2 linked regions of the Homo sapiens genome follow. The protein of the gene in region 2 purifies or fractionates together with the protein of the main gene of each other region. This does not show direct contact. Each region holds a gene or a part of one and is shown on either strand. Other genes may lie near its edges.

Region 1 (3,238 bases), on a different chromosome or scaffold from region 2:
GTTAGGATTCTAGTTATCCAGCTTTTAAGAACATGTTCTGTTGTTGACAGTATGCTAAGCTGGGCCTGAGTTTGGTGGTTCCAGGAGGGGGAATCAAGAAGAAATCACCTGCAACACCACAGGCCAAGCCTGATGGTGTCACTGCCACGGCTGCTGATGAAGAGGAAGATGAATACTCAGGAGGACTATGCTAGTATTTTGCTTGCTGAAAAGAAAAGGGAAACAAAGGTAAAATCCTGACATGCCATTTCAAGGACTTGGGAATAGATTAGGGATATCCGTACTTCATTACAGTCATGATTTTGGATCCTAATAAAGACTAGTTTTTAGTTACCATCTTCCCAAATCACTCATTGTATCCATTACCTGTGAAGCATATCTTTTTCTTTCCATAAGAGCTTTTCTAAGACACCAGCAGGAATTAACAGAAAATGTACTGTCATGTTTTAATACATTGATTAAAAAATTTGCAAGCCAAATTATACATAAATTATGTTCTAAACAAAAGGGGTAATAAGCATAGGTATTCTCTCTTGGACACTTGTAAGTTACTGTTAGTGAATTGTTTTTTACGTTTCATTTAATAATTGCTGCTAAAGGTGATGTTTACTGATAAATCATTTTAAAATTTTTTTGTTTTGAAAAGTAAATTTATCCCCCATGATGTTAGATACATTTAAATTATTAAGTCTTTTCAGAGATGAGATGGGGACAGGAAGTTATTTTGAGCCTTACAATATTATTTAGCCCAATAAAAGATGCATTGAAGCTCTTATATATTATGAGTTTGAAAAATTTTGAAGGTAGCATATTGAAGTGATCTATAAATATCTTCAGTCCTCTCTGAAGTGTGGGTATTTCTTCTATCTAAAAAATACATACAGTGACTGTCTTCAAATCTACTTGGTTCTTGACCAAATAGGAGCTAATGGGTAATGAATACCTTTTTGTTTGTTTGTTTGTTTGTTTTGTTTTTTGTTTTTTTTTTTAAGGGTCTCACTCTTTTGCCCAGGCTGGAGTGCAGTGGCACAATCACGGCTCCCAGGCTAATGTTTTTATTTTTAATTTGTAATTTTTTTTTTATTTTTTTTGTTGAGATGGAGTTGCTCCATGTTGCACAGGCTGTTCTCAAACTCCTAAGCTCAAGCCATCTGCCTGCCTTGGCCTCCCAAAGTGCTGGGATTGTAGACATAAGCCACCTCACCCAGCCTATGAATATCTTTCTAACATTGTAAGAATGAGGTAATGTTTCCATCAGTCTAATACAGATATATTTCTTCCCTCCAAAACAGTTTATTTTGATTGTTTATTTTATTTTGATTGTAACTCCGTCATAACTTGACATGGAAAATGCTATATACTATGAAAACTTAGCTGAAAGGGAAGAATTGTTTTAGAAAGACAATATTTAAAACACCGCACTGCCAATATATTGATCCTTTATAGTTATTTCCTAAAATGCTGTTTTCGAAACATTCCTTTTTCACCCTGTTGTGTGGCTTAGACCCATCTCGTAATCTGTTAATTGGAAAGAGGCTACAGACACCAGCAGTGTGCGTTCTGCAGGTACACGCTGCCAAAGTAATTCCTGCTCATCCATGCCCTGTCTCTGTCTCTTTTAGAGTCATACCTTATTTGAGTATAGGTTGCTTAATTTTGCTAGACTTCCTGAAAACACTAAGGTGGAGTATCAGAAGTGATTTTAGTCACAGTTCTGCGGGAGAGCTTAGAATAACATCCTCCTTTGGGAGGTGGTCTCGGGTGCGTGGATGTTGGTATACAGTCTTTATTGTAAGTCTGATACAAAATGCTAATAAATTTAATGTTTTTCTTCCTTAATTTATTGGCATAGTTCTTCAGGTAGCACCTCATTTTTATTAATGATATTGGGATTAACTATGAACAAGCTATATGTAGACATTTGCATTTAAGGACATTGCAGTGTTTCAAAGATCCCATCATTGCAGCTTGTATCCTTTAGATCCAATCGGAAACTTCTGGAGTCTTACATTAATGCTCATTTGAGCTAATTAGTAATCTGTTTAAACAGATTTGGCAATACTTTAAAGATACTGTAGACTATTTATGTATAGATAGATCATATTACCCATTAAAGTCTGGGGGAAAAAATTTTTTAATTTTACTCTTCTTATGTACTGAAAACTTTTTTTAAAAAAGGTGATGATGAAGTGCATTCTGTAGCAGCAGCGCAGCTATGCTTTAAACCACACAAAAGGCTGTGTCCAGGTGCAGCCTCCTTCACCCTTCCTGCCCACGGTGAGGATTGAATAACCAGGACTTGGGGATATTGTTTGTTGTCAGGGTTATTCTGTGTGGTAAGGAATATTTGTTTCACATTTATACATTTTCTTTTTCCACTCACGTAAGTTTCTATCTTGAGAGCATAGTCCAAAGTGCAAAACTTGGTGTTTACAAGGAAAATTGTCTTCCAGAACTCCACTGTCATCACTTTCACCAAAGTGGAAGTTTGCATGAATATGCTCAGAATCTAATATTCAATGTTCTGTTACATTGTAAGTGAAGTCCAGCTACAAAATAGATTTAATATATTGAATTTATTTGTACATATGCAGAGTACGGTATTTCTGTATGGAATCTGCTTTATTCCTATTTTTCCCAACTCTGATGAGTAGAATATTAAATGTGTTGTTATGGAAATACAGATTATTGCTTCTATAGGAAGATAATTATGAAAATAAAACCTGAAACTATATAAATATAATTGTTCTTTGTATTATTTATTTTGTTTAGCTTGTTTTAATTTTCTTTTTTCCAGGGACACATTCTCTTAATTATATGACTTCAGCATTATTTTACAAGGACAGTATTTTGTTATCTGCAGTTGTCTTTTCTGCTCTTTGGGAGTAAGGTACCTTTGGGAATTTAAACTGTTTGAGCTTCTTAAAATACCAGTCATTCAGTTATTGTAATACTACATATACTGCTGTTTGGTGAGATGAAAGACTAATACCTCTTCCAAGAGAGTAATTCTTTGATTGGGTTAAGTGAGATAAAACCATGTATGATTAGGAGGCTAAGAGAACTGATGTGAAATTGTTTACATAATTAGCACCTTAAATACTAGCAGATTTACTTACAATCAGACATTTATTGGATGCTAACTATGTAATATTATCCCTGTCTTTCATGGAATGGAAATTAATAATATAATTTGATACCTGGATTCAGGAGAAGTTGAAGTAAGAAAGAATGCAGA
Region 2 (7,529 bases):
TTTTTTCTAGCTATTTTTTGCCACTACAGACAATGCTGCAATAAACATCCTTATGCCTAATTTCTTATTGGTACATATATTTATGTAAGCTAAATTCCTAAAAGTGGGATTGCCAGGTCATAGTTACACAGAGTTTTAATTGGGATCCTATTACTTTCTCAAAAGTGCATAGCAACATACTTTATGTCAACTTAATTCCTGTATTTGTTTTATATGGGTAGAATATGGCTGATGCAATTTTTGAGTCCTATTTTCCCTCCATTAATTTTAGATAATTTTCTTTGTACTACATACTTTCTGTAGTAACCTTAAATGGCTGCATATGTCTATTAATGTCGTGACGCTTCTTTACAATTTTATTGGAATTGCATCAAACCTTAATATTAATATGGGAAGAGTTTATATTTACTTCCCATAATGTATATCCACAGAGACAATCAAAGCTTTGACAGTAGTATTAGGGGTTTACACATGTAAATAAAATTTATTTCATGTATGCCTCTTAACTCTTAATAAGTTGACATTAATTACATATTTTCATGGGCACAAGAATTGATCAAGAGATTCTCAGTTCTCAATATCAGGAAGAACTATGCCTGGAGCATATGCTTCCATCACCACATCAGTGACTTCAGTCAAAGGAAAACAACCACAGGATTACTCAAGAGCATACTAAAGATTGGGCATTTCCCAAGTATGGTGAGCCAAGCTCCCTGTGATTCTTCTGGCACTAAAAGGGTTTACTTTGAATCAAAGGTAAATGAAAGCAAGCAAAACAGAAAGGAATCCTAGCACCAAGCTCCAAGGACACTGCTTTGCAGGCTAGCACAACTAGAGTTCCTCAAGGTTTGGGGGAAGACCATACTCCACAAAGGCTTGGGAACATTCCACATCAGTCTCCACCCGCCAAATAAAATACTATAAAACCAATCTCCAGGTTGGTGGTGGGAGGAGGCAGGAGAAGAAAAACCTGACTACCAGTTCTTGTTAGTATATTCTCTATTTTATCACCACTATGTGGTGATAATGGAGATTCCCATGCATCATCCTTGAAATGAGAAGTTAAGAAATTACAAACCCAACAGAAGGTGCATCGCTGGCCTCTGTGACATCCTTATGCTACATCCTGCATGAATGGTAATGTCAGCTTTAACTGCTTAGTCTTGTAACAAGGATAAGCGGGTTTCACTGGTTCCTGGGAATTACTACTTGCCTCTAACATTGAAGAGTCTTCCAACTGGAAACAGATCTGATTACTTTTGCCAGACTTAATCTCTTTCTTAAGCAGTTAATGAGAGCTTTCAATAATCTTAATGACATCACTTCAATAAAAATACCTAGATGTTATTTCCACAGGAAATAAATGTCCACAGACCATAAACTTAATCTGGTTAATAGCTAACCTGGGAGAAAGGTGGGAGTTGGGTTCAGATAAAGGGACACTGTAGTGTGATGGTAAATGAATTATTCACCCCTCTTTCTGGACTGCTGGCAACTCTCTGAGCCCTCTTCTGGGTTTAGGTGGGAAGAGAAATGAAGTGAAAGACAAAGGTAGCTGGAAGCAGGAAACTTCTCCCTGTATGGGCTTCCCAGCTGCAGGGAGTCACTGAAGGGTTCAGAATATAAAGAGGACTCACAGCGACAGGAAAGGGAAAATCAAGAGAGAAAAGGGAACTAGACAGAGGATACAAATCAAAGGTACTATCTGGGGAACTCCCTCCCTCATGCCTTTCAAAGTAGGGCCAATAGGAGGTAATGGCTGGAGGCCCTATAGGAAGTCTCCACAGTAGAGAAGTTACCCATATCAAAAAAAGCTCTTACCCACTTCTACTCTCCTTCCCTTTTCCAGCTTCTTCTTTTATAAGGTTAGAAGCACAGGAGATGCTTACAGTTCTTATGACTGGTTCCTGAAAGTGCTGCTGAAGATCCCAATGGAAGGCTGAGGCCAAAGTAAAGGGAATGTTGAGTGATTGCACGGAGAGGCCAAAGGAACATGTGATCATCCATTCACCTTGTCACTCAGTGGGCTCACGGTCAGTCTCCAACAGAAACTGAATGTGCTCTGTGTGCCTGCCTTGATCCAGATACACTGGAGCTTTTATGATATTTTTCAAATAGAAAAAGGGCAAAATAATAAGATAATCCTACATTGAGGAAAAAGAGGATTTACTAAAGAGCAATGTATTTAATGCACAGTTTCTGCAGTTTTTGGAGTTAAGGCAGCTAAGATATTCTACACTCTTGCCTCCAGAAATCTCTCTCTTAATAATCTCAGAGAGTTTCCTTGTCAAGTGTTTCTAAGTCCTCAGCATCCGACAGGAGAAAGAATTTTCATCACTAGGGTTCTGCAATACATGATATAAAATCTACGATTCTGTGACTTTCCTGGTGAAGCATATTGGTTATGAAAGTAGAAAATCTTATCAAAACAAGATTTATTGCAAAAAACAAGATGAAAAGCATTTACCACATTTTTAAAGCTCTACCCCCTGGATCAATGATCTAGAGAGATTTATAAAATTTCACAAGTTCAAAATGACCAAAAAGCTTTGAAGCTCCTCTTCCCTAGATAGATATTTTTTATCTCAAAAATTGCACTTGATGTTTGCTCTAACCTGTAAGAGACTGTCTATCATATTAGGAGCTATTCCCTAGAAAAAGCATTGCCCACATGCTGTTAGAGGAGCTCTGAAAAAGAACACATAACCTGCACAATGGCATATAAAACCCTGAGATTCTGGCCACAACAGCCTAGAAAATGTAATGAATACCAGAGCAGTGCTTCTTTTACACAGTCTTTTTTGGTCCTATTGAATCCACAAAATTATTTTCATGTAACATTTTAAATCACATTAAGTATGTAAGTCAAATGAGCTCTTTAGCACCTTTTACATAAGAAATGATGCTATACCAGTAACAGTAACAACCCATAAGTAAAAGATACCTACGGAATAAAGTCAATTTGTGCTTATTTGGGAAATTTAAAAACTGTAAAAAAAGAAAACTTTGAACCAAGTTTCTTCAAATTAGACTGAATTCCTTCCTGTTCTGTTAAAACACAAAAGTTTTTGTCATAAAATAATAGCACTTATCGAGATGATTACTAAAAACAAACAAACAAAAACCTCTAACTACAGACATAAGTGAAGACACAGCGTACTTTTGCACTTCTGCTTAGAGAATCCCTAGAATGACTCCAGCAGCATGAATGGCAGAATTTAGGTCAAGAGGCCAATTACCCAGTGTTACCATCAAAGGCAGGGACAAGTTACCACTTCTCTCTGCCTGTTCCTGTTTTCCTTTGAGAGTCACTGTTACGCAACCACAGAAGTAACTTTAGAGGATGCCAAAAAAAAAAAAAAAGAAAGAAATAAAAGACATTCACAAAGTCCTGGAAGCAACTATACCTCTGAACCACTAGGTCAAAACCATCCTAATCATCTCCACACCCCGCTGTTCCACTCCCCGTTTTCTTGCTACAAAGTGAAGTAATAGGCCTAGGAATTTTGGTCCATTGTTAATCAGTCAGTTTCTAAGTAGCACAGGCAGACTGATAGTTCCCCAATCAGCCAAGAATAGATTCAAAGCATCTTAAACAGAGACTAACCTGGAGGTGACTGGTGCTGGGGCTCAGCTGTGGTCTTCCCTGGCCCCAAGCTCTTTTCCAAAGTTTCCCCAGGCACCAACCGAGGTTGGCCTGCTCTGAGGAAGGCCGGGCTGGCTCCTTTGGTCTCCGTGACCTTTGCAGAGGATGGTGGCTCCAAGGTGTCAGCAGAGACGCACCCAGAGAAGACACGGCTCTTTCTACAAGGAGAGTCATTAAGAGCAGCTTCCCTCTCACCAGGCAATGCAGGGAGCCGGAGGATCCTGTGATGCTGCTGAGGGCTGGGGAGCCTTGGAGACAGAGGCGAGGGAACAGGTGACGTCTGTTTGTGTGTGCTGGACTGCGAGGCTGAATTATTAAACACCTTGCCAAGAGCTGCCGGTGCTGGTGGGGATGGCTTCTTCTTATCACCTCTGGGTTGTGAGGAGTCAGGACCTACTTTGTGGGGCAGATCCAGAAACAAGGACTTGTGGCCACCAAGGGGCAACCCGGCTCTCCTCTTGTTTCTCGTTTCTGGGCGAGTGTGAGGGACACTCGTGTGGACAGGGAAGCCCAGTCTTTTCCCCTCAGGGGCTTCATCTAACTTCTCACTCTCTATCACCTTCAGGGGGACCTTGTTCACGGCCCCCTCGGCACTGGCCGACACACTAGAAATGGAGGCTGTTTCCCCGGCTGGCGACTGCGATGACCTATCCCCTTGCCGCTCCTTGCCCTGCCGCCTGGAGCCATGAGCCCCAGCCTCAGCTCCCGGGAGGGTGAGCAAGTCGGCTTTGGGTACAAACTCAGCGTGGGCTGCTGGGCGAATGGCAATCGTCTCCTTACCCTTAGAATGCGTTTTAACTACTCTTTGTACCTGGGAGGACAGGTCCTGAACTTTGGCCACCACTTTGGAGACAGGTTTCTGCTTGCAAGTCCGCTTAGCCGGCTTCTCCATCTCATCCTTTTCTGCCTCTGGATGCTTCTCAGGGTCCTGGTGACTTTCAGACAAACCTGTTTGCTGATGCTCCAGCCCGCTCGGCGGCCTCCGAATGCCATCCCCTCCTGCCTCTGTGGAGCTGCAGTCAGGGGGCAGCACTTCTCTTCCAAGCCCAGTGTCCTTGAAAGCCGTCTCAAAGCTCCCAAAGCCAAGGTCTGTGTCTGGCGTCTTGGGAATATCTGGGGGGCAGCTCTCTCTCCTCTGCAGGGAGCAGGCAAGTGCCCCATTCGGGAGCAGATTTCCTTTCTCCTCTAGTACCCAAAGGTTAGGCCTTGTTCTAGAAAGAGGAAGGGAGTGGCTGGAACAGATCTTGTCCTTGCCCATCAGAGGAGCTGATTCTCGGCCTCCACGCCCTTTTCTTTTGGTCCTCTTCTGTGGAAGGGCCCCAAAGCTCTCTCTCCTTCCACTAGACCTCCGAGGCTTTTTGTTCCCGTGGGTGCTCCTCTTATTGAGAGGGCCCACGGGGAGCTCTCCCTGCCAGTCACCAGCACTCTGGAAACAGTCATCCTCGGGGGCCAGGCTCACGGACAGCTCTTGCAGCTTCCCCTCCTGGTTCCCCATCGTGATCCCCAGGATGTGGTCTGAGCTCAGGAGATTGGTTAGCAGTCTCTCCCTCTCTGTTGTGAGTTTGTACAGCTCAGTTAGAATGTCTTTCGTGGGAGTCTGCTTGAAAAATATGTCGCCTGGATGTTCGTCCGGCTCCTGGCTGAGGCTGATGATGTCTGACTCCTCCCTGACTTGGTAGCAGTTATGAAAACCTTTATTGGATCTGTCTAGAGTTACAGTGCCCTTGTATGAAAATCCTCTGACTTCCCCCTTTGGAAGACAGAAGCTGATGTAGCAGAGTTCCGTAATGGGCTTATGCAATTGGAGGGTACAATGAGTGCCTTCCATTATGCCTACCTAATTATTCATGCCTTGGAGATGCCGGTTTGTGGTCAGGCTTCCCAGGCTCCAGTGGTGAGGCATGTGATGGTGGCTATGCAGAGAAAGCAGCTGACAGTCATCTCCAGCAATGAGACTGCCTGTTAGAGGAACAGGGGAAGAAAGCAGCTTGTCTAACAGAGTGCATAAATCACACACCAACATAAAATCAAAGCATAACCATGACTTATCCTTCCTCTGTGGCTGACCTCAACAACTCAAGGAATCAGACAACAGCCAGATTTCAATCTCTTCCTCACTCCCACCCTACTCCTGATCAGTAGAACTTTTGTATAACTGAGAGATGGGAAAGTCCTCTCATTTCACCCCCAGGACAAAAGTTCCCTTTCCCTACATGGGGACTCACTGTGCAGCCTGGATCAGGTCTCTCAACTTCTCTAGACCTTGGTTTATGTTCTTCTGTAAAATAGAGCTATCATAACTCCCAGAAGTCCTTATCTAGGGGGCTTTGAGATCCTTAGAAAACACAGCCATTTTCATAACTCATATTTGGAATATTACTTTGCAAAGGTAGATCGATCAAGCCTTTTTACCCTCTAAAAACCACCTTCAAGATCTGAGCTCAAATTATCGATTCAACTTAAAACACAATGTGAGGAAAGATCTTAGGCCCCAAATTTGGTGTCAACAGTAAAAATTTCAATGTAAAAGTTTAAAATTTAAATAACTCAAGTCTTAATCAAGTTTTGCTGTTTTCTTTTTTATTTATTTTTTGTTGTTGTATTGCCTTCTTTTTTCCTTCCTGTTGTCTATTCGAAGCCAAATGGAATGACAGAGGAACAGCAAAAAATCTATAAGGAACGGCTGGCCCTGTACAGATTTTTCAATGATGTCACCACAGAAACGGCTGAAATGTCACATAATTAGTGAAGGTGGCTGCTTCCTTGTGTGATATGAGGGACCTCAGAAATGTCTCTGTGGCTACCATCCCCACACACAAACTCTATATTTCTAGTTTCTTAAGCTATTGCCCAGTCTTCAAGCCTTCCTTGCTTAAAACAAGCACCGCCCACACCCTGGGAATGATAACACAATAACTATTCATTAGCCCTTGATATCTTTAGTGAATTATTTTCCTCAGGTTTTTTCTAACTGCTTCTAAATAGCAAAAAAGCTACATAAAAGTATATTTTGAGTGAAGGAAGAGAGAAAGGAGGAAGAGTCTGGTAAAAGTAACTCCTTGAGGAAGAGAGTGATAAAATGACAGTTATGAAAATTGCAGATATCTGGTCAAACCAGAATGCCAGGAGACCAGGAGAGGCCTTGCCTCTTTCACAATTGTATATGGGGCTGTTCTCACTCAAGTAGTTTTTTTTTTTTTTTTTTTTTTTTTTAGATGGGTTCTTGCTCTGTCGCTTAGGCTGGAGTACAGTGGTGCAAACATGGCTCACTGCCGTCTCAACATCCTAGGCTCAAGTGATCCTCCTGCCTCAGCCTCCCGAATAGGTGGGACTACAGGCACGTGCCACCACCACCCAGCTAGTTTTTTTGTATTTTTTTTTTTTGTAGAAACAGCCTTTTGCCATGTTTCCCAGGGTGGTCTGGAAATCTTGGACTCAAGCGATCCTCCCACTTCAGCTTCTCAGAGTGCTGGGATTATAGGTGTGAGCCACTGCTCCCGGCCGTATTTTTAAAACTTTTCTAAAATGCTTATTGCTAGCATTTTCTAAAGATGCACATGTGTAGGGATACTTAATAATTATTGGTAAAAACTCGCTGCATGTGTCCAAGAACTCACTTAGGAGGTAGTCTCTTATTGTGTAATTTATAATAATCAGTAATAAAAGCAATTGCAAAGCTGTCAATATCCGCTGAGCACTAAGCATTAGGAGTTCAATTAATGAATTCTCAGACAAACTGAAGGGAAGCAGCAGATGAGCTATGCTGAGTTTTGGAAAAATAGAATGCTCTCCTCTCTCTTCAAGCATCATTTTCCTCTAGCTGTTCTCATCTCCTCAATTCCCATGGATTAGGAGTAGTGTGTGATGTTGGGGGAGGAGTGTT

What was found.
Region 1: the proteins of FMN1 (region 2) and NAPG purify together in Homo sapiens (affinity purification with mass spectrometry; 2 studies listed by BioGRID and IntAct, with this or other methods). This does not show direct contact.

What each region holds. Positions count from the first base shown.
Region 1 is NC_000018.10:10,550,027-10,553,264, forward strand, and holds the end of NAPG (gamma-soluble NSF attachment protein), read left to right. Parts: intron 1-50; coding exon 51-194; 3' UTR 195-2,738; downstream 2,739-3,238. UniProt on the Homo sapiens protein: Required for vesicular transport between the endoplasmic reticulum and the Golgi apparatus.
Region 2 is NC_000015.10:33,149,441-33,156,969, forward strand, and holds part of FMN1 (formin-1), read right to left. Parts: intron 5,606-7,529; 5' UTR 5,475-5,605; coding exon 3,608-5,474; intron 3,348-3,607; exon of another isoform or gene 1,940-3,347; coding exon of another isoform or gene 1,818-1,939; exon of another isoform or gene 1,113-1,817; coding exon of another isoform or gene 1,079-1,112; exon of another isoform or gene 344-1,078; intron 1-343. UniProt on the Homo sapiens protein: Plays a role in the formation of adherens junction and the polymerization of linear actin cables.